5 separate regions of the Homo sapiens genome follow, and regions 1, 2, 3 and 5 are each linked to region 4. Evidence: fine-mapped expression QTL. A gene starts in region 4. Each other region holds a variant in brackets. All regions are shown on one strand. Distances are between the middles of the regions. Region 1 has its middle 34 kb from the start of QDPR. Region 2 has its middle 29 kb from the start of CLRN2. Region 3 has its middle 23 kb from the start of CLRN2. Region 4 holds the start of QDPR (quinoid dihydropteridine reductase). Region 5 overlaps FAM184B (family with sequence similarity 184 member B).

Region 1 (5,106 bases), 34 kb after region 4:
TGTGAATTGTTTCTGCTTTTTGGCCATAGTCAGTTATGATGCTGTGAACATTTGCAAAACTCACCTTTTGTGTGAACATATATTTTCATTTCTTTTGGTACATGCCTACAAGTAGAGTTATTGAATATCAGTTGGTGACTCTATATTCAACCATTTTAGCAATTACTAGACTGTTTTCCAAAGCAGCTGCACCATTTTACATTTCCACTGGTAGTGTATGATGGTTTTAGTTTTTCCACATGTCCAGTCCAGTCAGTCTTGATTTACATGTCTCCAGTCAGATAAGTCCATCCTCTTCCTCCTATGGTGAGGAGCAAGTAAGGACCTCAAGGTCTCATTTGTCAGAGTGCCACAAGTATTACATAATTTTTAATTCAGTTGGTATCTTAATTTTGGTTTTCTTAAAAATCGGCACTGATTGCTTGATTATAGGTTGTCTCTTTTTGATTATAGCCATCCTAGTGGGTGTGGAGTGGCATCTCATTGTGATTTTGATTTGTATTTCCCTCATAGCTGATGATGTTGAGCATCTTTTCATGTACTTGTTGGCTATTTGCATATGGTGAAATGTCTGTTCAGATCCTTTGCTCAATTTTTAATAATATCCTTTTATTACTGAATTCTTAGATTCTCTATATACTCTAGATACAATTCCCTTATCAGATAAGTGATTTGCCACACCTTTCTTTCATTCAGTGGGTTGTCTTTTCACTTTATTGATGGTGCCCTTTGAAGAACATAATTTTTAACTTTGATGATTTCCATTTGCACATAAGCTTTCGTTTCTCGCTGTTTTCTAGGGAACCTGGACTAAGCACCTGAGTGAGGTAGATATTAGTTCCATATCTGGTGAGGGAACTAAGGATCATAGAGTTTAAGTTATTTTCCCAAACCACATAGCCGGTGTAGAAAGAAGCCAGAATTTGCACTGAAGTCTGTGAGATCCCTTATGGACAGGGTGCAGGACATACTAAGTGTGAGTTGAGCTTGCACATTGGAAGGCTGGGCATGGTGGCTCCCAGCCACTATGGGAGGCCTAGGTGGGTGGATCACTTGAGCCCAGGAGTTAGAGACCAGCCTGAGCAACATAGTAACACCCCCTCTCCACAAAAAAATACAAAAATTAGCCCAGCATGGTGGCACATGCCTGTAGCCCCAGCTACTCGGGAGGCTGAGGTGGGAGAATCACTTGAGCCTGGGAGGTTGAGGCTGCAGTGAGCTGTGATCATGCCATTGTACTCCAGCCATCATGGAGTGAGACCCTGATTTGGTTTGGCTGTGTCCCCACCCAGATGTCAACTTGAATTGTGGCTCCCAGAATTACCATGTGTTGTGGGAATGGAAGGGAACCAGGGGGAAGTAATTGAATCATGGGGCCGGTCTTTCCCATGCTATTCTCGTGGTAGTGAATAAGTCTCACGAGATCTGATGGGTTTATCAGGGGTTTCTGCTTTTGTTTCTTTCTCATTTTTCTCTTGCCGTCACCACGTAAGAAGTGCCTTTTGCCTCCCGCCATGATTCTGAGGCCTCCCCAGCCATGTGAAACTGTAAGTCCAATGAAGCCTCTTTTTCTTCCCAGTCTTGGGTATATCTTAATCAGCAGCGTGAAAACGGACTAATACAGACCCTATCTCAAAAACAAACAAAAAGAGATTGCACATTGGCACTTGGTCCCTGAATGTGCTAATGATATGTGGCATTCATGGGCCATCTGCTGTGTGTGTGGGGTTTTACATACATCCTTCCTTGTATATCCTTAAGGCATTCACCTCTTCAGCCTCCAGGATGGGAAGGTTTTTGCAGGAATGTATCTTTTCCTCTCTTGAGGTCCTCACTTGCTCCTCACCATAGGAGGAAGGACGGATTTATCTGATTGGAGAGACTGTAAATAAAGACTGACTGGAACATATGGACCAGGGGCGGGTCTGCTGCATGGACTTTGGGCTGTGTGGGTTGCTCACTCTCCTGCCCTCTTCTTGCCTATGCAGAACTGATTTCTCACCTCTACCTTCCTGTCTGTTCCTGGTGGGTTAGGAACGTAGAGGAGAGAAGGGATGAAGATTAGTTTCTCTTACCCCCTGAAGCATTATTTTTCACAGTGCCTCTCCACCTGTTCAGTGTTGAGTAAGTGCTGAATGAGTGGACAGGGAAACAGCCTTGGAGAAGCTTACTATCCCGCACATCCCTACTAAGTGATGCAAATGAGTCAGGGAGCCGGGGTCCACACCCAAGCGCCACCCTTGGTGGTTTGTATGATTCTCTGGTTAGGGAGGCATGACGGTAACATCTCCTCCTGTTTATTCCTGCCATCTGCTGCTTTGTCCGCCTCTCATCTCCTTGGTGGCTTCCTCCATGCAGCAGGTTGGTGGACACAGGTGCACTTTGTTCACTACCTGGCCCTGCCACACCGTAGTTATGGGACCACGAGCAATGGGCCAGCCTTTGGCCTCTTTTCTCACATTTATTGCTTGCCCTTCTCAGTCCCAGTCTGCATGTCAGGCACCACATTTTCCAGGCTCCCCTGTCCCTGGCTTCCTGTAGGGTCAGGCAGTTGGGGGCCTGGTAGAGAAAGGGAGGATGGGGAGAGGGGAGAAGCACAGTATCCCCATTACCCCTCCTGCCTCAGTGGCATCTCAGGGGCAGTGGTGACGTCTTCAGCTGTGGTGCGTCTCCTCTGTTTTCCCCGCTCCCACTGACTGGCTCCTTCCTCGGTGGAAGCAGCTCCCCAGGGCCTGCCCACGGCTCTTCCTTTGATTCTCAGCCCTTGAGTTGCAGTGGCTTCTCACTGTTGCTCATCTCTGGGTCGCTTCATTGTCCCCTGTTTGGATTCTGGATTTTTCCGTCTCTGATATGACCCATCCTCTTTATTAAATTTCCTCTGTTGGAGTGGTTCTGTTTTCTGGCTGGTCCCTGACCGATGTAGTGTCCTATCAGTAAAATGGGAGTGCTACCATCTCCCTTATGGTGTGGCTGTGGGTATTCAGTGAGATGGCAGCTGGTTAGTATTTACCGTTTTTTTCTGTACTTCAGAGGGAAGAGTGGGCCTCTCTGGGAAACAGTGCCTCTGA[C/A]TTCTGCATTTTTAATTTGCCCCAAAGCCATTAGTTCTTAATTTCAGTTTCTACTTGTTGCAATGATAGGGTGGTAGCAATATCACCACTCACCCTTCTGGAATAGCCTGGGGCCTGGGGAGAGGTGTTCCCGGTGTGGTCACATTCTGTGGCAGATTGTGTCTAGCTGGGGACTTGGGCAATATGCTGCTGTCACCTATGAGTGTTTTTAAGTCACAGCTGCTTAAAATCTCAGGAAATAGAAAGCGTCTAAGTGAAGTGAATGGTGTGGCTGCATGCTGCCTTTCAAAGTGCGACGGACAGCCTCTCCTGGGGGCTTGGCAAAAGAATTGGGAAGGGTCAGTTTCGGAGGCTCTGTCCATGGGAGGAAACTGGTGCTGAGTCCAAGTTTTTTCCCCTTCAGGTCAATTTCTATTGTAATACCATCACTTAGATGTAAAATAAAGGCCACTGGGGGGCATTTTAGAGACAGAGACGGTGGGGAGCAAAGCTCCGTGGGGGATAAAGAAAGCACATTAGACAGAAAATCCTACTGTGCCGGGGGTTTCTGCTGTCCTAGAGCTCTGTGCAGGGGATTATTGGAAGAAACTTAATGTTTTTCTTTTCTCTTCTCTTCTTTTCTCTTCTCCTTCCTTCTTTTCTTTCTTTCCTTCCTTCCTTCTTTCTTTCTTTCTTTCCTTCTTTTTTTTTTTTTTGACAGTCTTGCTCTGTCGCCCAGGCTGGAGTGCTGTGGTGCGATCTTGGCCCAATGCAACCTCCACCTCCCGGGTTCAAGCGATTCTCCTGCCTCAGCCTCCCAAGTAGCTGGGATTACAGGCACCTGCCACCACGCCTGGCTAATTTTTATATTTTTAGTAGAGACGGGGTTTCTCCATGTTGGCCAGGCTGGTCTTGAACTCCTGACCTCAGGTGATCCACCTGCCTTGGCCTCCCAAAGTGCTGGGATTACAGGCGTGAGCCACCATGCCAGGTCTGAAACTTAATGTTTTTCTAGAATGTTCTTAGCATTGAGCGAGCCTCTATATAGTCTGGAGATACTCCTGGACTAAGCAAGTCCCTTTCTGGCCTCTGCCTCAGTTTTCCGTTTCTGGCAGAATTTCCTACTGCATTTTTGCAAATTATTTTTTTAGCTCTGGATAAAGTAATTTGGACTGAAAATCTGAGTAAGAGAAGAATTAAGATATCCCATCTCAATGGTTATCTAAGAACTGCAAATGGAAACAGTGAGATAGCATTAATAGTAGTTACCAAACTAGCAATGATTTTTAAAATGCAGGTGGTAATTGGTAAAGTGTAATTTCAAACCCTGCTGGTGGCCAGCCAAGTAGCAGAACTTTTCTGGCAAGTAATTTGAGGGTCTTACAACCCTCAAATATACCATTTGATCTAGTAATTCCATATCTTAAGTGTTATGTAATAATCAGCAACAAGGACAAAAAAAATAACAAATGAAATTCCTGCATCATTACTGAAATCTTGGAAACAATCCAAAAGACTAGCAGCACAGAATTGTTAAATAATCACCATACATTATGATATAATATGATTTGTGCCATAGAATAACTGCTGAATGGGAGGAGTGCCCTGGGCAGGGAAGGAGGTCCAGATCCTTTCTGGGGTGTATGGGCTGCTGTGAACCCAGTAGGGGTCTGCTTGACATTGAACTGCATCTGCTGTAATGGCCTAGGGGGTTTAGTCCCCTGCGCAGCTCCTCTTGCCATCTCTCTTCCTTAACATTGACCAAATGAATCCTTACTATGCTGTAGGCCTTGCTTTACAAGCATTGACCCATCTTCATGACTTTAACGAGGACACTTCTATTATTATGTCCATTTCACAGTTGAGAAGATTGTGGCATAGAGAGAAGTTACTTGCCCAACGTCACACAGTTAGGAAGCAGCAAATGTCAGGATTTGAGCAGGTATTCAGACCGCTCTTAGCTACTACATTATACCAGACTGCAAATAAGCCGTACAGTTAATTAGCACAATCTAGTTGTGCTAAGAATTATTAAAAATCACATCTTCAAATAATTGTT
Region 2 (5,106 bases), 33 kb before region 4:
TTGAGTCAACGCGCCCGACCTGGAAGTTTTTACTCGTGGTGGAAGGCAGAGTGGGAGCAGGCCTGTCACATGGTGAGAGAGAAAGCAAGGGGGGAGGAGGAGCTGCCAGGCTCTCTTAAACAACTAGCTCTCCTGTGAACTAATAGAGCGAGAATTCACTTGTTACCACGGGGATGGCCCAAGCTATTCTTGAGAGATCTACTCTCATGAGGGATCTGCCCTGTGGTAGCGAGCCTGTAATCCCAGCTGCTGGGGAGGCTGAGGCATGGGAATCTCTTGAACCCGGGAGGCGGAGCTTGCAGTGAGCCGAGAACACGCCACCGCACTCCAGCCTGGGCAACAGAGCGAGACTCCGTCTCACAAAATAAATAAAAGCCCTGTCTCCAAATATGTCACATTGTGAGGTACCCGGGGTCAAGACTTCAACATAAGTTGGGGGGGCGGTGCAGGGCATAACCCTGCCCATGACAGCCCTGGTTCATTTCTGAACTGGTTGAAGGCTGCCTCCCTCTGCCCTTGACGCCGCACCACCTTCCTGCCTGGATCCTCTGCTCCCATGTGCTGTCCACATGCTGCTCGAGGACTCCTTCTAATGCGCCACCTATCCTGCTTCTCAGCCCTCAGTGAAGCCCAGTTCCTTCACAGGACGCAGGAATCCTTCTCGAACCTGGCCCTACCTTTCTCGCCTGCCTGTGTTCCTTCCATACTTCTTGTCTTGCGCTTGTCCCAGTGGGTGCTGAACTGCTGTGACCTGGCTGTGCTGTTTCCTGCCTCGATACCTCTGCTTCTATTTATGCCCTCACCCTGAGTTTTTTGCCTTTGCCTGCCTACCCCTTATTCATTCTTCAAAATTGACAGTGAGAGGGAGACTTTTGTGGTTCCTTGAATTCCATCCCAGCTCTGGCTTCTGGACCAGAGAGACTTGCGTGCACGCACAGAACCCAGCGCAGGCAGACGGCATGTGGACAGATCACAGGTGAGCAGATCGCAGTAGGCATTACCTCGGGAACAGTCTGTTAAGGACATGCTGATCACTGCACCAAAGAACTGTCCCCGTACCCCAGGGGGTGTCAGCTGTCTAGGCCAGGTGGCCTGTAGGAGCCACCTCCCTTCATCAGGCAGGCAAAGCTACTGTCTGGTTTTATTATGTCTCTCTTAATACAGAGGCAATTCAATTTCTTCCCACTTTTGGCTGGCTATATAGAGATACATATATATTTTATATGTTTATATACATTTAACAGATTCATACCTGTGAGGCTGATACAAATTTATGAAGATATTAATTTATACCTACCCCCTGACTTTCCCCATTCAAGCTAGCTGCAGGCCTCACCTTAGGGGAAATTTGCGGCAATGTGGAAAACAGAAGAGCTATCGCTGACTTTGCAGTAAGTACTCTGGGTTATCTAGATTGTGATTCATACCCAGTACAGTGGACCCAGGGTTCCATCGAACTTGCTTTCACAGTTTAGCCAACTCCAACCTCATTGCTGTAGCTACTTTAACCCCAGCTAAACTTTAAAATAATAGCACATAAGCACTTCCATACTAGCAAATTTACTGTAAACTTACCCTCGCCCCAGCATGTAATTACCTTTTTTTTTTTGGGACAGAGTTTTGTTCTTGTTGCCTAGGCTGGAATGTAATGGCGTCATCTCGGCTCACCGCAACCTCCTCCCAGGTTCAAGCTATTCTCCTGCCTCAGCCTACCGAGTAGCTGGGATTACAGGCATGTGCCACCATGCCCGACTAATTTTGTATTTTTAGTTTCTCCATGTTGGTCAGGCAGGTCTCTAACTCCCGACCTCAGGTGATCCACCCACCTTGGCCTCCCAAAGTGCTGGGATCACAGGTGTGAGCCACCCCGCCGGGCCATGTAATTACTATTAATGGTTTTGTTTGTAAACCCCACTGCTTCCTGATCCAGGCTGTGTCAGGATCAGCTCTGGCCATCCTCCAACCTCATGTTATCATAAAATACAATGTTTGTGTTTCTAGTTCCTGGTCTGTAAACTTCCCAAACAATGTCATCTTCATCTTTGTATCCCCAGGACCTGGCATTGTGCCAAACACATAGTAATGTTCCCAAAATAATCTGTTGAAAACAAAATGAAAATAATTGGATCTATGGGATGACAGGGCAGGGACAATGAAGTAACTATTTGGAATAATTTTCAGTAAGAAGCTTTTGTTAATGGAGGTGGAGAGTGGAGGTAAATGTCCAGAGGAAACAAAATTAGCCATGGGCTGATAATTATTGAAGCTGGATAATAGTTACCTAGAACTGCAATACTGTAGTTTCTATGCATATATATATATATATAAATTAGGCATATTAAATACATATTCACCAATAAAAAGTAAAAAGTGAAAACAAACCCACGTCTGTTTACTAAGAAATGAGTGTGAGAAGGAAGTGCTAGTTCTATAATGAAGCAGGCTGTCATTTCTGCTTGTTTACTTTGCATTTCAGCACAGCGGCCCTTTGTGAGGAACAATGACAATGACTTCCACCTCTTCCGGGGAGAAGCCCAGATGAGGAGGTCAGTTGCTGTGGCCTGTCAGCCCTAGAGGTGATGTCACCGTCTCCCGAGGACAAAACCTTCATTTAGCTGCAAGAGGGAACAGTTGAGTAGTAAAGTGCTTATTGTTGTGGGTCATCCTTTGGCTCAGATTTTGTAAACAGATTCATCTTGAATGACTGCATGCATAGGGATTACAGGAACGACTGCATTGTCTGAAATGACAAGCCTGGAAATTTCCACTGTAGGGGGATGTCATGGGATTCACTACTGGTATAGACATTAAAACTTACAAAGAAGAAAATTCTGTAGAAATAAAGACATGCTTAATATATTTATTTGAAGAAAGCAGAAGGAAAATAAGTCTGATGTGTATCGCATGGGAAGAGGGACATTATGACGGCATAAAAAAGTTAAAATGGGCCAGGCGCAGTGGTTCATGCCTGTAATCCCAGCACTTTGGGAG[T/G]CCGAGGCGGGCGGATCACGAGGGCAGGAGATCGAGACCATCCTGGCTAACACAGTGAAACTCCATCTCTACTAAAAATACAAAAAAAAAAAAAAATTAGCCAGGCGTGGTGGCAGGTGCCTGTAGTCCCAGCTACTTGGGAGGCTGAGGCAGGAGAATGGCGTGAACCCAGGAGGCAGAGCTTGCAGTGAGCCGAGATAGCACCACTGCACTCCAGCCTGGGCAACATAGCAAGACTCCATCTCAAAAAAAACAAAAGTTAAAATGTTGAGATATTATGCCACAACATGGATGAACCTTGAAAACACTAGGCTAAGTAAAAGAAACCAGTCATTGGTTATACAATAACCATATCTGGTATAATTTCACTTCTATGAAATATCTAGCACAGGCAAATTCATAGAGACAAAAAGTAGATTAGTGGTTGCCTAGGGCTGCATGGGGAAGAGAATGAAGAGTGATTACCAATGGGCAGAAGGTTTCTTTTTTGGGTAATAAAAATGTTCTAAAAACGTGGTGACATTGCACAATTCTGTAAATATACTGAAAACTACTTGAGTTGTACATTTTAAATAGCTGAAATTTATGCTGTAAAAATTCTAGCTCAATAAAGCTGTCAAAAATGCTGGGGGTATTGGGAAAAGAGGATTCTTTTTTAAAAATTGTCTTATTGCATCAATTTATTACATTTTCAATAAACAATACAAAATGTATTTTCACATAGTAAAAATCCAGCAAGGATACATCACATTCACCAATGATAATAAATATTTATTTTTGAAAACCCAGACAGTGTATTTCTGATAAATCTTAAAATTGAAGATATTCAAAATTCAGTGCAATCAAATTTCCATTGTCTGTTTGACAATTAAACACCAGTGTGGAGTGCATTTGGTTTTCTAGCAGGTACTGCAGCAGCTGCTGATGGCCTCTTCTCTTTTTTCTCTGTTTCTTTGTCAAGGATGAAGTTGGCAAGAGTTCGCATGCTAGCCAGTGCTCCAGGGTGAGGGAGCAGTGGTCCCTAATCTCAAATGGGAGTTAAATTGGTCTTCCCAAATCACTACCATGGCCCAGTTGTTATTTTAATGGTGTTTTCCTCATGGTTTTGTGTGGCATGGTAGCAAAATGTTATTGAGTTGCCTTCATTCTTCTGTTATCTCTAACCACATATCCAGCTTCCTGAGTTTCTCTTTTTCATTTATAAAATAGGAACGATGACAGTACCTGACTTAAAACTCTACCATGTTAAAAAACAACAACAACAAAACGGTAGCTCTCTCAGGTTGATTCCAAGGCTGGGATGGGGAAAGTACTAAATGAGCCTAGACTCTTGCCATGCCATAGGCGAGGAAGTGCTCAGATAATGTTGTGGGCATGTCAAAAGAACAGGAGCTGGCTGGAAAGAGCCCTCACCAGCCAAATTTGGGATAATTTGAGTATCAAAATAAATGATGATGGTAATGGAGAGTAAACAATGGAACAAAATAGGAATTCATGAGTCTATAGTGATATAAATGTACGAATCAGTGGGAGAGAAGGGAAAGCTCTTCCCTACAGTAGAATGCCAACCAATAAACTTAGAAGAAATAATGGGATTAGAAAAGGAACCATTTGGCAATCACCACAGTAACAACTGATTCGGGCAGAAAATCATCAATGGATGCTAAAATCATGGTTTGAATGGTGAGAATTTGATGAGAAATATCTCTCAACAAGATACTAACTAATTAAAATGGGAAAAGTAGAAACTACAGTGGAGAAATCTGCCAGTACTACTTCGTAGATGATTAAAGTGAACACCATCCGCAATGGGAGAGAAAAAAATCACACGCTTTCTGTTGAGATGCGCTGAGATGGGCAAAATGTCATCTTGCAGGTATTCTTGCCTAGAAAGCACGTGCCTGAATCTAATCATAAAGAAGCATCAGGGCCAGGTGCAGTGGCTCACGCCTGTAATCCCAGCACTTTGGGAGGCCGAGACGGGCGGATCACGAGGTCAGGAGATCGAGACCATCCTGGCTAACACGGTGAAACCCCGTCTCTACTAAAAATACAAAAATTAGCCGGGCATGGTGGCGCGCGCCTGTAGTCCCAGCTACACGGGAGGCTGAGGCA
Region 3 (5,106 bases), 26 kb before region 4:
GACCACTGCAACCTCCCTGGTGCCAAAAAGGCAGGGGACCGCTGGTCTAAAGAACACATGGGCTTCATCTCTCCTTCCACACTCTGCTTGTCTCCATTTCTGCCTTTGCCTGGCATGCACCCTGTAACCCTCCTGGCCAGCATGAAACATTTTTAGTTGAGCTCTAGTTCCTTTCCCAAGAAACTTTATTCACTAATCCCTATACCAACCTCTTCTTTCCTGAACTTCTGTAAATCCAATTACTAATATAAAAAGTAAGCATTGGCTTATTATCTGTCATAGGTGATTTTTTTTCTTTGTAAGAAGAAAATGGTGAAATACCATACACACCCATTAGAATGGCCAAAATCCAGAAGAGAGATGACACCAAATACTGGTGAGGATGTGGAGCAACAGGAACTCTCATTCATTGCTGGTGGGAATGCAAAATGGTACAGCCACTTTGAAAGACAGTTTGGCAGTTTCTTAAAAAACTAAGATCCTTTTACCATATCATCTAGCAATCACACTTCTTGACATTTATCCAAAGAAGTTGAAAACTTATGACCACAAAAAAACCTGCACAAGGATGTTTATAGCAGCTTTATTCATAATTACTAAAGCTTGGAGGAAAGCAATATGTTCTTCAGTAGATAAATAGATAAATAAACTTTGGTACACACAGACAATGGAATATTATTCAGTGCTAAAAAGAAATGAGCTATCAAGGTACTAAGACATGGAAGAAACATAAATACATTTTACTAAATGAAGGAAGCCAGTCTGAAAAGGCTACACACTGTATAGATACATATATAGGTACATACACACATACTGTACCTACATATGTATAGATATTGCAAAATTCCAACTGGCACATTACAGGCATTAGCCACCACACCTGGCCTATTTTCTAAATAATTTAGGAACAGTTTCTGGGTGCTTAACATCTGTCAAAGAGCAAAAGCCCTAGAAAGATTCCTGTCCTGGCTGGGCGCAGTGGCTCATGCCTGTAATCCCAGCACTTTGGGAGGTTGAGGTGGGCGGATCACCTGAGGTTTGGAGTTTGAGACCAGCCTGACCAAAATAGAGAAACCCCATCTCTACTAAAAATACAAAATTAGCCAGGCGTGGTGGCTCATGCCTGTAATCCCAGCTACTCAGGAGGCTGAGGCAGAAGAATCACTTGAACCCAGGGGGTGGAGGTTGCAGTGAGCCGAGATCGTGCCATTGCACTCCAGCCTGGGCAACAAGAGCGAAACTCTGTAAAAAAAAAAAAAAAAAATCCTGTCCTCATAGAGATGACATTCTCATGGAGAAAGACAGGCAGTATACAGTAAGTATAACACAAATATCAATTATCTAGCATGTTAAAGATAAGCAAAAAGAAAACGTCGAGCAGGGTAGTAAAGATGAACAATAGTGGTAAGGTATAAGGCAGGCTTCACTATTAAACTGGGTTTAATTTGAGGCGAGACTCAAGTTCACAACGCAACCTCAAACCTCCTGAGAAGTCAATTCCCAAAATAGATGGGAAGGCAATTCCTAAAGTTGTGAGAGATGATGTAATCATTTACTTTGTGAGTAAGTGTCTTTTTGCCCTGACAAAGCTTAGAATTAAGTACAAAAATACTTAAAAGAAGCAAAATCAAGGTATTGATATTTTTGATTTTAAAATTTGTACTTCCTTATTATTTTATGTATTGGTGATGAAAGAGAAGCTGGTCTGCTGGTGAAACAGGACAGCCGTATATTTCTAATGATTTGGAATCATGTTTTGCTTATTTATATACAGGGCTGGAATTTTTTTTTTTTTTTTTTTGAGACAGAGTCTCGCCCTGTCGCCCAGGCTAGAGTGCAGTGGTGTGATCTCGGCTGACTGCAACCTCCGCCTCCCAGGTTCAAACAATTCTCCTGCCTCAGCCTCCCGAGTAGCCGGGATTACAGGCGCCTGCCACCACACTCAGCCTTTTTTTTTTTTTTTTTTTTTTTTGTATTTTTAGTAGAGACATGGTTTCACCATGTTGGCTAGGCTGGTCTCAAACTCCTGACCTCGTGATC[C/T]GCCCTCCTTGGCCTCCCGAAGTGCTGGGATTACACGCTTGAGCCACTGCACCCAGCCAGAATTTTTAAGATAACTTAAGGTTCACAGCATTTTAACTTTAATTCATTAGACTTAGAAGAATTATTAAATTTTGTCAGTTAATTGAAGTGCATGGAAAATAAATTAAGTTACATAGGCTGTTTCAAGATGTTTATTTAGTACATTCATAAAGGGGACCAAATGGTAAACCAAAGCTTTTAAAAAGAGATCACTAAAATTTGCTAACCTAAAAAACAGAACAATAATATTTATAAGCTTAACTTCAATTTAAGGAGAAACAAATTTTGTGAATGTATAACTTTAATAAATGGAATATTACCTATTTCAATGTATTATTATTATTATTTTCATTTTTGCTGAAAGGCATACAACGTGCTATGTAAAGGGAACTTGAAAAAGTCATGCATTCCCATTCTTTACTTTCTGAAGTAACTAACAGTGTTTTTGCCACAGTTTTGTAAATTCTAACTAACTTGTTAAAGTTTGCCATAGTGATGACTGAGAAAAGAGACGAGGCCTTCATGATGAGGGCTTTAAAGAAACAAAGGCATACTTACAAAACAAGATTTAAAACATCACGATTAATTAATTTTCAAGAAAATTGTTTTCATTACAAGGAATAACCTACTACAGCAAAACCCTGAAGGGTGGGCCTTTAAAATGGTTCAGCTGACTACTCACCATAGGAACACTACTTTTCAAAACTAAAGTAAAATTTTGAGTAGTTTGTTTTGGAGTCAGAAATCACCATTACTGACATAGTTAATAAACAGCTGGTATATCAGGAGCCACCTCTCAGGTGGGCCACTTAAGCTGTGGTACCCAGGGAAGCTTCAACAAGAGTAGACAGAATGACTCGAGGATGGCTCATTTCTCTCTTCAACAGTGCTGAGAACTTTTTTCCTTTCTTTTTTTTTTTAAATATATTTTTATAGAGATGGGGTCTCCCTATGTTGCCCAGGCTGGTCTCAAACTCCTGGGCTCAACTGATCCTCTTGCCTCGGCCTCCCAAAGTGCTGGGATTATATTAATAGACAAACATCTCCTTTTCAATAGAAAGAATCCTTTTGTCCTATTCACTCCCTCCTGCCTCCTACCGCACGGTGGCATAAGCCACCACACCTGGTCTGGTGCTGAGAACTTCTGTGGGCCTCTTACAAACATCTCTCTCTCTCTCTTTTTTTTTTTTTTTTTGATAGAGTCTCACTCTGTTGCCCAAGCTGGAGTACAGTGGTGTGATCTCGACTCACTGAAACCTCTGTCTCCCAGGTTCCAGTGATTCTCCTGCCTCAGCCTCCCGGGTAGCTGGGATTACAGGCACGAACTACCACGCCTGGCTAATTTTTGTATTTTTAGTAGAGACGGGCTTTCACCATGTTAGCCAGGCTGGTCTCGAACTCCTGAGCCTCAGCCTCCCAAAGTACTAGGATTACAAGTGTGTGCGCCTGGCCACATCCCCTTTTCAATAGAAAGAATTCTTTTTGTCCTCTTCACTCCCTCCTTCCTCCTACTCCCTTGAAATCTGTAAGGTTGAGAGAATTGTTATGTTAGAAGAAAAAAATGTATTATATACAATTTATTGTTCCGCAAGAGGTCAATGACAAAAGAAAAATCACTGTGGTTCCAAAGTCATTTGTTAGTGTTGCTTATTATTTTTTCCAAAACAGAAAGCAATAAAGCAAACAATTACATGCCATGTTTTTACATTTGTTTTATTTAACCAAGAACTCAGCCGCGAACATCAGAGAAATGCATATACAATATATTCAGAATATAGTTGAATTGGTGGTTGAAATCCTCACAATATTAAATTGTCAGTGCATGTAACAGCATCTCCAATCACACTGGTAGTCAACTATTACCAAATAGCATTCATGAAAATGCCTAGCTTAGTGCCCGGCATATAGTTAGGTGCTTTATTCACTATAAATCTGGATATATTATATAGCATTAAAAGTCATAACATTTTAGAGAGGGAAAGAAAATTAGAGATTATCTTACGCGACTTGGTTATATTATAAATGAGAAAGCTGTGTTTCTAATTCTTTAACTTGTGAATAAATGTAATGAATAAATGTGAATCTGAAAGAGTCAATCCTTCAACATGGATCCTGAGTGGCTAACTGGGCCTAAGTTTTGAATACAGCCAAGGAGCCATTTGCTTATTAGAGGTCAAACATACACTCTGAGTTCCCCGCAAACCCACACCCTTTTAACTTGGAGACTTTCAGGTCTCACCTGAACCAACCAATCAGAGCTCACCGGCCTTGGCCAATCAGGACTCAGCTATATAAACCAATCAGGGTGCAGCTCTACCAACCAATCAGAACTCAGCTGTGTTGGTCAATCAGAGCTAAGAAAGTTTGAATCCTTTATTTTCATAAGCAGACCTGATTGGGAAGCTGGGGTGGACGTTTTGCTATAAACCTGAACCCTCTCTTTGTTCTCTGGAATGCACTTTTGTTTTACACTGAAGCTGTTTCCTCAGTTTGCAAACTGTTCACTGGAATAAAGTCTCTTTCCTCCAAATTCCTTTTCAGAGAACTTGTGTTCACAAACTGAAGGCTGCATCTCCTCAGTTTACAAACTGTGTCTCCTTGGTTTGCAAGGCTGGGAATAGGGTAGGCACCTACTTCAAATCCTTATACGTTAGGCTAGGTACATCCTTGAAAATCACACGGGTAGAAGGAGGCTGCATCTCTCTGGTTTTCAAACTGTTCATTGGAATAAAGTCTCTTTCCTCCATATTTCTTTTCAGAGAACTTTTGTTCAAAAACCCAAAAACTGGTAATAAGAGCAACTACGTCTCAGAATTTTTATGAGAATGAAAATGAAACAATGCATGTGGGGAAATTAGTAGAAAGCCTAGCATATGGCAAACGCTCTGTTATTGATTGGCCTTATTTTTGTCAAGCTGTGACTATTGCTGACTCATGATTGACACTGCCGTAGAAAAGAAAGTAAGAAACAGAGAGCAGACAACCTAATTTATCTGGCAAGGATTTCATGTGTGTCCTAGTTGCATA
Region 4 (5,106 bases):
CACTGTTAACCAATAGGGGTCCCAGGAATCTCACTTGGAGAGTGTCAAGGAAGCAGAGGGACACATTAATGGAAATGTCAGTTTCCTTCCTCGCAACTGGGGCTCACTTCAGTGGCCACTCCACAATGAAAATAAAAATGAGAATTTCTGAGCCTGGGCAATGTAGTGAGACCTTATCTCTACAAAAAATAAAAAAAAAAAATAGTTGGGCCTGATGGCGTGTATTTGTAGTCCCAGCTACTGGAGGCTGAGGCTGGAAGACTGCTCCAGCCCAGGAGCTCAAGGCTGTAGTGAGCTATGATCATGCCACTCTGAGTAACAGAGTGAGATCCTGTCTCTTACTATATATACAGATGAGTGGCACTTTACCATGTACAAAATGCAAAATGCTTTGACCATATGCTTGCTCACCTCTGATGCTCCAGCAACCCTTTAAGGTAAACAGGAGATGCACGATTTCAGCCATTTCTCTCATGAAAAACTGGATGTCAGTGCTGGGGCTGAAATTCAGGTCTTTGAATTACAACAGCTCATCTTCATCCCAGTGACTTTGAAACAGCAAATGTTTTTCTGGTAAAAAATAACAGAATACATATAAAAGGCTCAGAAGACTGCTTGGCACATTAAGTGATCAATAATGTTAGTTCACGTTCTTATTTTAACATTAAGCATGCTTTGACAAGTCAGGACTTGCGTAAATATCATTGAGTCATATTTCTGCCGTCAGTGAGGGACCTGTGTCAACTTTTGGTGTTTTGAGGGTTAAGCAATTGTTTTCAGAAAAACTCTAAGGGAAACACTTGATTCCCAACAAGCCTTTGTCTTGCTGAACAAAGGTGTGGTTAAGTGGAACTCTAGCTATTGAAGACCTGTGTTCAAATTCCCACTCTTCCAGACAAGTGTCTGTGACTCTCATGCCTCAGCTTTCTAATCTGCATAGGATTATCGTGTGGAGTAAAGTGAAATAGCACAGGCAGATCACTTAGCGCAGTGCCTTGGATATAAGGAGCACTAAATAGATGGTGCTCTCCTCTCCATCCAGCCTCCTAGCAGTTCTATTTCTGATAATGAAGCTTCTGACAACAAAATGTGCTGCTGGCTGCATCCTCTTCTCTAGTGACATATTTCTGCATGCTTTACCTGGCACAAGTTTACTGAACAAACATCTGTGTCTGCTGTGTACAAGGTTATATGTGGATGGGAAGTGACACAAAGATGTATGTAATACAGGGTTCTGCTATCAAGAAGGTTATGAGAGTGTTAGAGCTCTGGTTCTCTATCAGTGATGAATTTGCCCCTAGGAGACAACTGTTAAATCTGGAGATATTTTTGATTCTTATGAGTGAGGGGTAGGGGTTTGCTATTGATTTCTAGTATATGCAGGCCAGGGATGCTGTAAATATCCTACAGTACCCAGGGCAGCACCTGTCACAAATAATTATCTGGCCCAAAATGTCAGTAGTGCTGTAGATGAGAGGCTCTGTGTTAAAGATACAGGCCATGGGCAGAAATAACTAATATACAAGGGAGAAAATGCCAGGATCTGTGTCTGGCGATGGGTGGCATATAGTAAAAGGGCCATTTGGATTAATGGGTATAAATTTACGGTTAGATAGAAGAAATAAGACCTAGTGTGGTTTGTCTCGTCTCGGCGGTGGACTTTCAGCTCCTTGAGCGGAGCGACCTCTTCTGTTTTTTTGGCAGGTGGGAATACTTAAATCTCTATTTTGATGCACAATTAAAAATAAAAAATTGCCAAAACAGTGGTCGAAAATTGTACTATACTATATTTTACATGCTTACACTTCACAAATTAATGCTCGTAAAACACCCGCTCTCCACCCTCCTCGCCCTTAGCCCGGCTCGCTGCACGCCCCGAGGCCCAGCACTTGCTGGCGGGTGGGAGGAGGGGCTTCGCCGATGTCCCCGTCCCAGGGGCAGGGCCTGGCCGAAGTTACAGTCCCTCCGGGTGGCGGGGCGCCCCGAGCGTGGCAGCGCGCTAGGCGGCAGCAGCGGGCGCGGAGCGGGGCGCGGCCGCCGCGCGTTCCCTCTTGGCGGGGTTGGCCGGCCGGGGCGGGGCGCGGCGCTCCGGCTCGAGGCATTCGGAGCTGCGGGAGCCGGGCTGGCAGGAGCAGGATGGCGGCGGCGGCGGCTGCAGGCGAGGCGCGCCGGGTGCTGGTGTACGGCGGCAGGGGCGCTCTGGGTTCTCGATGCGTGCAGGCTTTTCGGGCCCGCAACTGGGTAATGCTGCGGGCTGGGGCTGCTGGGTCTCCGCGGGGGTGGCCGGGGGCTTTCGTGTGGAACCCGGCGGGGGGCAGTCTAGAGGAAGGTGGGGGCCCCTGTGCACCCCCTGACTCGTGTTGCTTGCACGTGCGCGCACAGGTCTACGCGTCTATTCCTGTTTCCGAGTGCGTGCGCACGCCAGTCCCAGGGCGCTGGGCCTTTGCTGTGCAAGGAGGTGCTCCGTGGGCCTCCGCCAGACCCAAAAAGTCCGGCGTGACTCGGGAGAGAATTCCAAAGGGGAGGAACGGGAGCAGGGGTGAGAGGACGGAGAGAGAGTGTAGAAGGAAGGCTCTAGAATGAGACAGCCCAGTCCCGGTTACTAGTCATGAGACCGCGTATTGATTACCTAACGCCGTAGGACCTCGGTTTCCCCATTTGTACAACGGAGATTCTGACAGTGAGAGTTGGGACGATTAGATGAGATAATTGGTGTCGTTGCACATAAATTACCTGACGCCTGGTAAAAACTGTTTAAATGCTGTCTATTAATGTTACTATTACTACCCACCCCTGTTCTTTTAGCCCCATTGGATCTGACAGTTTGAAGGCTCAGCACGGAAAAACGCTGACGGCTTCTTTGCTCTGCAAAGACTATTTCAACTACTTTGCATAGTCAGGTGTCAATTTCCAGGAGGCGGCAAGTCGGAGCAGAGCTGATACATGGCCAAAGACCCTTGACCTCAGCCGCTCAGCAGGCCTCAGCAATTTCCCGGTGGAGACACTGCCAGCGGCAGCGTTCTGGGAGCTTAGTTAGCAGCAGCAGCACAGCAGCCTGGGCAAGAGTTCCCCTGGGACCAGAAAAAGGCTTTCAGGATTTTCTTTAAAAAAAAACTATCTAATTTTTATAGATGAAGGGGGCAAAAGTACAGTTTAGTTACATGGATATGTTGTGTAGTGGTGAAGTCTGGGCTTTTAGTGTAACCATCACCCAAATAGTGTACATTTACCAAGGTTTTCTTGTTGCTCAGAATCTGGTACAGGAATATGCTTCTGAAGAATTCAGTCACACCACTCCCTTCCTGCCACCCATCTGCTCAGTGCTTGGGGACACTGATGAGGGCGCTTTCCCAGGTCTTCAGAGATGCATGGTGGTGACAGAGGCAGCACTTCTGCCAAGGGCCAGGCACTGTGTTCCCAGTACCAGAGTTCCCATAGACTCTTAATGCCCCCAATATCTTTAAGGCAGTAGATCCTGTTAGCGTCATGTGTTAGAGGGTGAAGGCTGTGCTTTCTCCTGGTGGTGGCACTTTGGTTTACCTTGGTCTTGGCAGAATCTGGAGAGCTGATTTACCTCTGGCTCTTGGTCTTTCCCCTCCGAGCTTCTTCCTGCCATCTTAGGGAGGGCTAGGATGATGGAGACTTTTCATTGTTTCAGTATCCCCCATGGGATAACAAGTTAATTAATAATATAACAAATGTTGATGAATAGATGCTGTGTTTACAGCTTAAGGTAGAGATAATTATCTCTGGGGACTTCAGACCAAGAGACCCTGAGTAAGGACTGAACATCCCCTGTGCCAGGAGCTTTAGCATCTTCCATTTCATTTAATTCTTACACTGACCCTGTTAATCATCAACAAACAACCTCTTTTGTTGGGAACCTCTGCCCGGCATCGGAGTGAGAAAGCCACTCTGGCAGAGCTGGGATTCAAACCTGATCTGTCTGATTTCCAATCCTAAAGTCCATCCCTCTCTGCTGCAGGACAGGGATCCTTTGTGAGCTGAATCTGGTCTGCCACCTGTTTTTGTACAGCCCAAGAGTTAAGAATAGTTTTACATTTTCAGGTGGTTGAAAAGAAAATCAAATGAAGAATTATATTTTGTTGTATATGAAAATTAATGAAATTCACATTTCAGCTCTGAAGATTTATTGGAACACAGCTGCACTTATTTTTTCCCCCTATTTATTGCTGTGTTCTGTTACAATTGCAGATTTGAGTAACAACAGATACCATATGGCCAGCAAAGCCTAAGGTAATTGTGATCTGGCCCTTTACAGAAAATTTGCTGGCCCTTGATGTCTCTAGAAGTGCAGGGTTTGTGTTTTAGAGGTGAATGTGGAGGCGGAGTAGAGTGTTTGGAGGTAGGAGGGCCTGGGATGGAGCCCAATATAGGGTGTGTTTTCATTGAAGCCTCTTACCTGTCTCCACTCTGCTCCTTTATTTTTCTTTCTTTTTCTTTTTCTTTTATTTAAATGGAGATAAGGCCTCCTTCTGTTGCCTAGCCCGGAGTACAGTGGTGCGATCATAGCTCACTGAGCTCAAGTGATCCTCTCGCCTCAACCTCCCGGGTAGCTGGGGCTACAGGCATGTGCCACCACACCTGACTAATTTTAAAATTTTTTTGTAGGGACTGGGTCTTGCTATGTTGCCCAGGCTGGTCTCAAACTCTTGGCCTCAAGAGATCCTCCCACATTGGCTCCCAAAGTGCTGGCATTACAGACGTGAACCACTACACCTGGCCAACTCCCCTCATTTCTATGTGTGACTCTTTCATGGAATAACAACTCACTGCCTCTTAACCAAAGCTGTTTTCTCCTTCCAGTGGGTTGCCAGCGTTGATGTGGTGGAGAATGAAGAGGCCAGCGCTAGCATCATTGTTAAAATGACAGACTCGTTCACTGAGCAGGCTGACCAGGTAGTTTCAAAAAGGCCCCCAAACATTGTGAGGGGAACCCTGGGGAGAGGTGACCACTGGCTGTATGTTCTTCCTTTGGCTGTATGTTCTTCCTTTTATTTCTTTTTTTCCCCGAGACGGAGTCTTGCTCTGTCGCCCAGGCTGGAGTGCAGTGGCATGATCTCCGTTCACTGCAACCTTTGCCTC
Region 5 (5,106 bases), 220 kb before region 4:
CCCCATCCAGCTTTGTTCCATTGCTGGTGAGGAGCTGCATTCCTTTGGAGGAGGAGAGGCACTCTGCTTTTTACAGTTTCCAGTTTTTCTGCTCTGTTTTTTCCCCATCTTTGTGGTTTTATCTACTTTTGGTCTCTGATGATGGTGACGTACAGAAGGGTTTTTGGTGTGGATGTCCTTTCTGTTTGTTAGTTTTCCTTCTAACAGACAGGACCGTCAGCTGCAGGTCTGTTGGAGTTTGCTAGAGGTCCACTCCAGACCCTGTTTGCCTGGGTATCAGCAGCAGTGGCTGCAGAACAGCGGTGGCTGTAGAACAGCAGATCTTGGTGAACCGCAAATGCTGCTGCCTGATCGTTCCTCTAGAAGTTTTGTCTCAGAGGAGTACCTGGCCGTGTGAGGTGTCATTCTGCCCCTACTGGGGGGTGCCTCCCAGTTAGGCTGCTCGGGGGTCAAGGACCCGCTTGAGGAGGCAGTCTGCCCGTTCTCAGATCTCCAGCTGCATGCTGGGAGAACCACTACTCTCTTCAAAGCTGTCAGACAGGGACATTTAAGTCTGCAGAGGTTACTGCTGTCTTTTTGTTTGTCTGTGCCCCGCCCCCAGAGGTGGAGCCTACAGAGGCAGGCAGGCCTCCTTGAGCTGTGGTGGGCTCCACCCAGTTTGAGCTTCCCAGCTGCTTTGTTTACCTAATCAAGCCTGGGCAATGGCAGGCGCCCCTCCCCCAGCATTGCTGCCACCTTGCAGTTTGATCTCAGACTGCTGTGCTAGCAATCAGCAAGACTCCGTGGGCGCAGGACCCTCCAAGCCATGTGCGGGATATAATCTCCTGGTGTGCCGTTTTTTAAGCCTGTTGGAAAAGCACAGTACTAGGGTGGGAGTGACCCGATTTTCCAGGTGCCGTCTGTCACCCCTTTCTTTGACTAGGAAAAGGAACTCCCTGACCCCTTGCGCTTCCCGAGTGAGGCAATGCCTCGCCCTGCTTCAGCTCGCGCATGGTGCACTGTACCCACTGTCCTGCACCCACTGTGTGGCACTCCCTAGTGAGATGAACCCGGTACCTCAGATGGAAATGCAGAAATCACCTGTCTTCTGTGTCGCTCACGCTGGGAGCTGTAGACCAGAGCTGTTCCTATTCGGCCATCTTGGCTCTCAGAAATTTTTTTTAAAAAATTTAAATCTACTGTAATCCCATCACCCGGAGGTTACTACTAACATGCTGAAATACCACCTCTGAGTCTGACACCAGCATTTGCCTCTGCTCCACACCTGGGCTCAATTTCCGCAGCACTCTTCCTTCCTACTGCCCCTTAGTTGCCATCTTCTCCACCCTTCAGGACACCTGCTTTCACTGCAGGACCTACACTGACTGCCCCGAGAGACGGAGTCTGCAAGCCCTAAGCTCTCCTAGGATTTGTTCTTGTGTGCTGTTCATACTTTAACTCACAGCAGTCAAAATGTAAAGATCTCCTGGTCCAGCACTATCCAAAATATGTTCTGAGGCATGTTAATTTTCATTGTAATTTTTTTTTAAGAGACAGGGTCTCGCTCTGTCACCTGGGCTGGAGTGCACTGGCATGATCATAGCTCACTGCAGCCTCAACCTCCTAGGCTCTAGCAATCCTCCCATCTCAGCCTCCTGAGTAGCTGGGACTACAGGTATGCTTGTGGATGGATATGCAATGTTGGCCCTGATCCTCTTCCATCAGCAACACTATCCTCATCTTCATCCTCATCATCACTACCTTCGTCGTGATTGTCATCGTCATTATGACCATAATTCCTGGATAATTTTTTTTTAATTTTGTAGAGACAAGGTCTCACTTTATTACTCAGGCTGGTCTCAGACTCCTAGATTTAAGTGATCCTCCCACCTCAGCCTTTGAAAGTGCTGGGATTACAAGTATGAGCCATCATGCCTGGACTCATTGTAATTTTTTTTTTAAATAAGAACTCAATGGCCAACTGCTGGGGTAAAGACAGTTAAGCAAATGTCTTTATAACAGAGCTAACCAAACACTCCCCAAGCTTATTTGACCCTTTGTCACTTTCATTCCCTTTGGGAAATATCAGGTTAGTTTGACCATTTCATTTATTAGGTGATATGGTTCGGCTCTGTGTCCCCACTGAAATCTTATCTTGAATTGTAATCCCCATATGTCAAGGGAAGGACTTGGTGGGAAGTGGTTCGATCTTGGGGGTGGTCTTTCCCATGCTGTTCTCATGATTGTGAGTTCTCATGAGTTCTGTTGATCTGAAAATGAAGGAGTTCTCACAAGATCT[G/C]ATGATTTAAAAGTGGCAATTTCCCCTGAACTCACTCTCTCCCCTGCCACCTTGTGAAGAAGTTGCCTGCTTTCCCTTCACCTTCCGCCATGATTGTAAGTTTCCTGAGGCCTCCCCAGCCATGTGGAACTGTGAGTCAATTAAACCTCTTTTGTTTATAAATTACCCAGTCTCAGCTAGTATCTTTATAGCAGTGTGAGAACAGACTAATACATTAGGAAAGGAAACTTAGTTTTCTCAGAGAGACTGTAGGACATGCCTAAGTTCACACTGCTTGAGAGGGACAGAGCTGGGTCTTGGGACTCAGGTCTCTTGTCAGCTGTCCTGGTGCCTCCTCTGGTGTCCTGCGGAGCCTTCATCCTGTGCCATCTTTCTGCCTGGAGGTTTCACATGACCCTGTGTGTGTACACGTCCTTCTCATGTGCTATGTGAGAGTAGGGACAGAGTCTTAATCTTTTGTTCTGTCTCCTCCAGTTCTGAAGTTGGTGTTCAGTGAGTCATACTGAGTTTACTTAGAAGGGTCAGGAATGCTGGCTGTAGCATGTATCTGTTCTTACTGACACAGAATCTATGTGTGTCCTGGCACCAGGTTTCTAATTTCCTTTGAGATACTGAGCAGGTACCCTGACTCAGTCTTCATTCCATGTGATTGAGGCAGGTCAACCCCATTCTCCTGGATCCCATGCAACCTGAAATTAGCCAATCAGAATATTCTATCCCATTGGCCACAGTGATCCATCAGCATTAGGTCCATGACACTAGCCAGATCGATAGAGTTAGCTTTGGAGCTTTTGTTGGGACTGTTGACAAAGAGGAGTTCTCTTTCCTGGGGCAGGCTGAGCTGGGAAAATAAAATCCTGAAGCTGCCTGTGGCTACTTTGTCAAGAGCCTACCAAGGAATAAAGCCAACTCAGAGGAAAGCAAAACTATGGGATGGGGAAAAGTAGAGTCAAAATGACATCATTTGGCCAGGCGCAGTGGCTCATGCCTGTAATCCCAACATTTTGGGAGGCCGAGATGGGTGGCTCACCTGAGGTCAGGAGTTTGAGACCAGCCTGACCAACATGGTGAAACCCCGTCTCTACTAAAAATACAAAAATTAGCCAAGCATGGTGGCACATACCTGTAATCCCAGCTACTCAGGAGGCTGAGGCACAAGAGTCACTTGAACCTGGGAAGCAGAGGTTGCAGTGAGCTGAGATCACGCCATGGCACTCCAGCCTGGTCAACAAGGGCAAAACTCTGTCCCAATAAAAACAAAACAAAAGAAAACAAAAAGACATCATTTAAGAGCCCACACCTGGAGCTAGCCCTGGCTTCGGGCTTTTCAGGTATATGAGCCAATAAATTTCCTTTAACCCAAGCTAATGGATTTGGGAATCTGGTTTTGTATATAGAAGAGTTTTGATTAGTGGGCCGGGCACGGTGGCTCACACCTGTAATCCCAGCACTTTGGGACGCTGAGGCAGGCGGATCACAAGGTCAGGAGATCAAGACCATCCTGGCTAACACAGTGAAACCCCGTCTCTACTGAAAATACGAAAAAATTAGCTGGGCGTGGTGGCGGGTGCCTGTAGTCCCAGCTACTCAGGAGGCTGACACAGGAGAATGGCGTGAACCTGGGAGGCGGAGCTTACAGTGAGCAGAGATGGCGCCACTGCACTCCAGCCTGGGTGACAGAGCAAGACTCTGTCACAAAAAAAAAAAAGAAGAGTTTTGATTAGTAAATCCGTACATATATGGGATTTGGTTGCTGAATCATAATGATTTTAAAAGGAATCTCACAGATTTTCACTGGACAAGAAGGATCTGACCAAGCCATCCTGAGAGGGCATTATGCCACAACCCCTGGGCCTTTCTTTTTAAAAAGGCAAGGAAAGACTTTTAGGAATATGTACTAAATGCCACTTTCTGCCTCCCAGTACTGACAGACGCTATATGACTGGCTCAGGGAACCCAGCCAAGAAAAAGGGAGACTGTCACCATTAGTGAAAATGGAGATGCCTTTACACTTAACCCTATTATCCAACCCACACTGGCAACTTCCCAGACCCTCACCTTCAAATGTGCTAATAGGAGTGTGCGTGACCCTAAAGACAGCTACCAGATTTGAACTGAATGAAAGCAGCCCTGGATTCAGGACCTGACACATATTTGGTGCTACTAGATGTGTCTGTGAAAGAGTAGTTTCTATTACTTTTTGACATTGGTATCTGGGATGAGAAAAATAGCATTTCTTAAATAGGCTAAGTGGGGATAATAATTACATGCCTCTTTTTCCCAGGCAGCACTGCGTAAATCCACTTGCACATAACACATCTAAATGGTGTCCCCTCTCTGTCATACAGAATTCTTCATTCATTTTTTCACCATTTATTCACTCATTCACTTACCATCTGTTAAATCCTGGACCATGGTTCTGCTTGGTAGTGAGGATACAATACTGAGTAACAAACAGTCCCTACTAGTTCCTGTCCCTGAGGACCTGCCGTATGCCTGCACATTGCCTGACCCTATGTTTGCCATTGGGACACAAAGGTGACGAAGTCATGACCCTGCCTCACAAAGCCAGCAGGCTCTGCAGCGGTGAGTCCCCCAGAGACCAGGCCCTACCCTCAGGTATGCGGGGGCAGATAGAGATTGAGAGCCACTTCTGGGGTGGATGAAGAGCATCCATGGAGTATTAAGCAAGACTGTCTTGTAGTCAGCCCTTCAATTTAGAAAGAACACTCTAGCCAGGCCAGGGAGAGAATTGACGTAGAATATAGGAGTCCTACGAAGGGTGGTCTGGAGGAAATGATTCCAGAAATATTTAGGCAGGACAGAGA

The links.
Region 1: its variant is fine-mapped to the expression of QDPR in whole blood (TOPMed, PIP above 0.99).
Region 2: its variant is fine-mapped to the expression of QDPR in tibial artery (GTEx, PIP 0.91).
Region 3: its variant is fine-mapped to the expression of QDPR in iPS cells (HipSci, PIP 0.95).
Region 5: its variant is fine-mapped to the expression of QDPR in amygdala (GTEx, PIP 0.96).

What each region holds. Positions count from the first base shown.
Region 1 is chr4:17,475,083-17,480,188 of GRCh38, reverse strand. No RefSeq gene overlaps it. Among named protein-coding and RNA genes, the nearest start is that of QDPR, 34 kb to the left of the region's middle. The variant C/A (reference allele first, on the strand shown) is at 3,069.
Region 2 is chr4:17,541,881-17,546,986 of GRCh38, reverse strand. No RefSeq gene overlaps it. Among named protein-coding and RNA genes, the nearest start is that of CLRN2, 29 kb to the right of the region's middle. RefSeq lists an enhancer at 1,619-2,215. The variant T/G (reference allele first, on the strand shown) is at 2,992.
Region 3 is chr4:17,535,363-17,540,468 of GRCh38, reverse strand. No RefSeq gene overlaps it. Among named protein-coding and RNA genes, the nearest start is that of CLRN2, 23 kb to the right of the region's middle. The variant C/T (reference allele first, on the strand shown) is at 2,041.
Region 4 is chr4:17,509,085-17,514,190 of GRCh38, reverse strand. It overlaps QDPR (quinoid dihydropteridine reductase), which reads left to right and starts at 2,101. Exons shown (of 7, transcript NM_000320.3): 1 at 2,101-2,241; 2 at 4,828-4,920. The coding sequence starts at 2,137. RefSeq lists a silencer at 1,893-2,472.
Region 5 is chr4:17,724,810-17,729,915 of GRCh38, reverse strand. All of the region lies in intron 1 of FAM184B (family with sequence similarity 184 member B), which reads left to right. Among named protein-coding and RNA genes, the nearest start is that of FAM184B, 54 kb to the left of the region's middle. The variant G/C (reference allele first, on the strand shown) is at 2,279.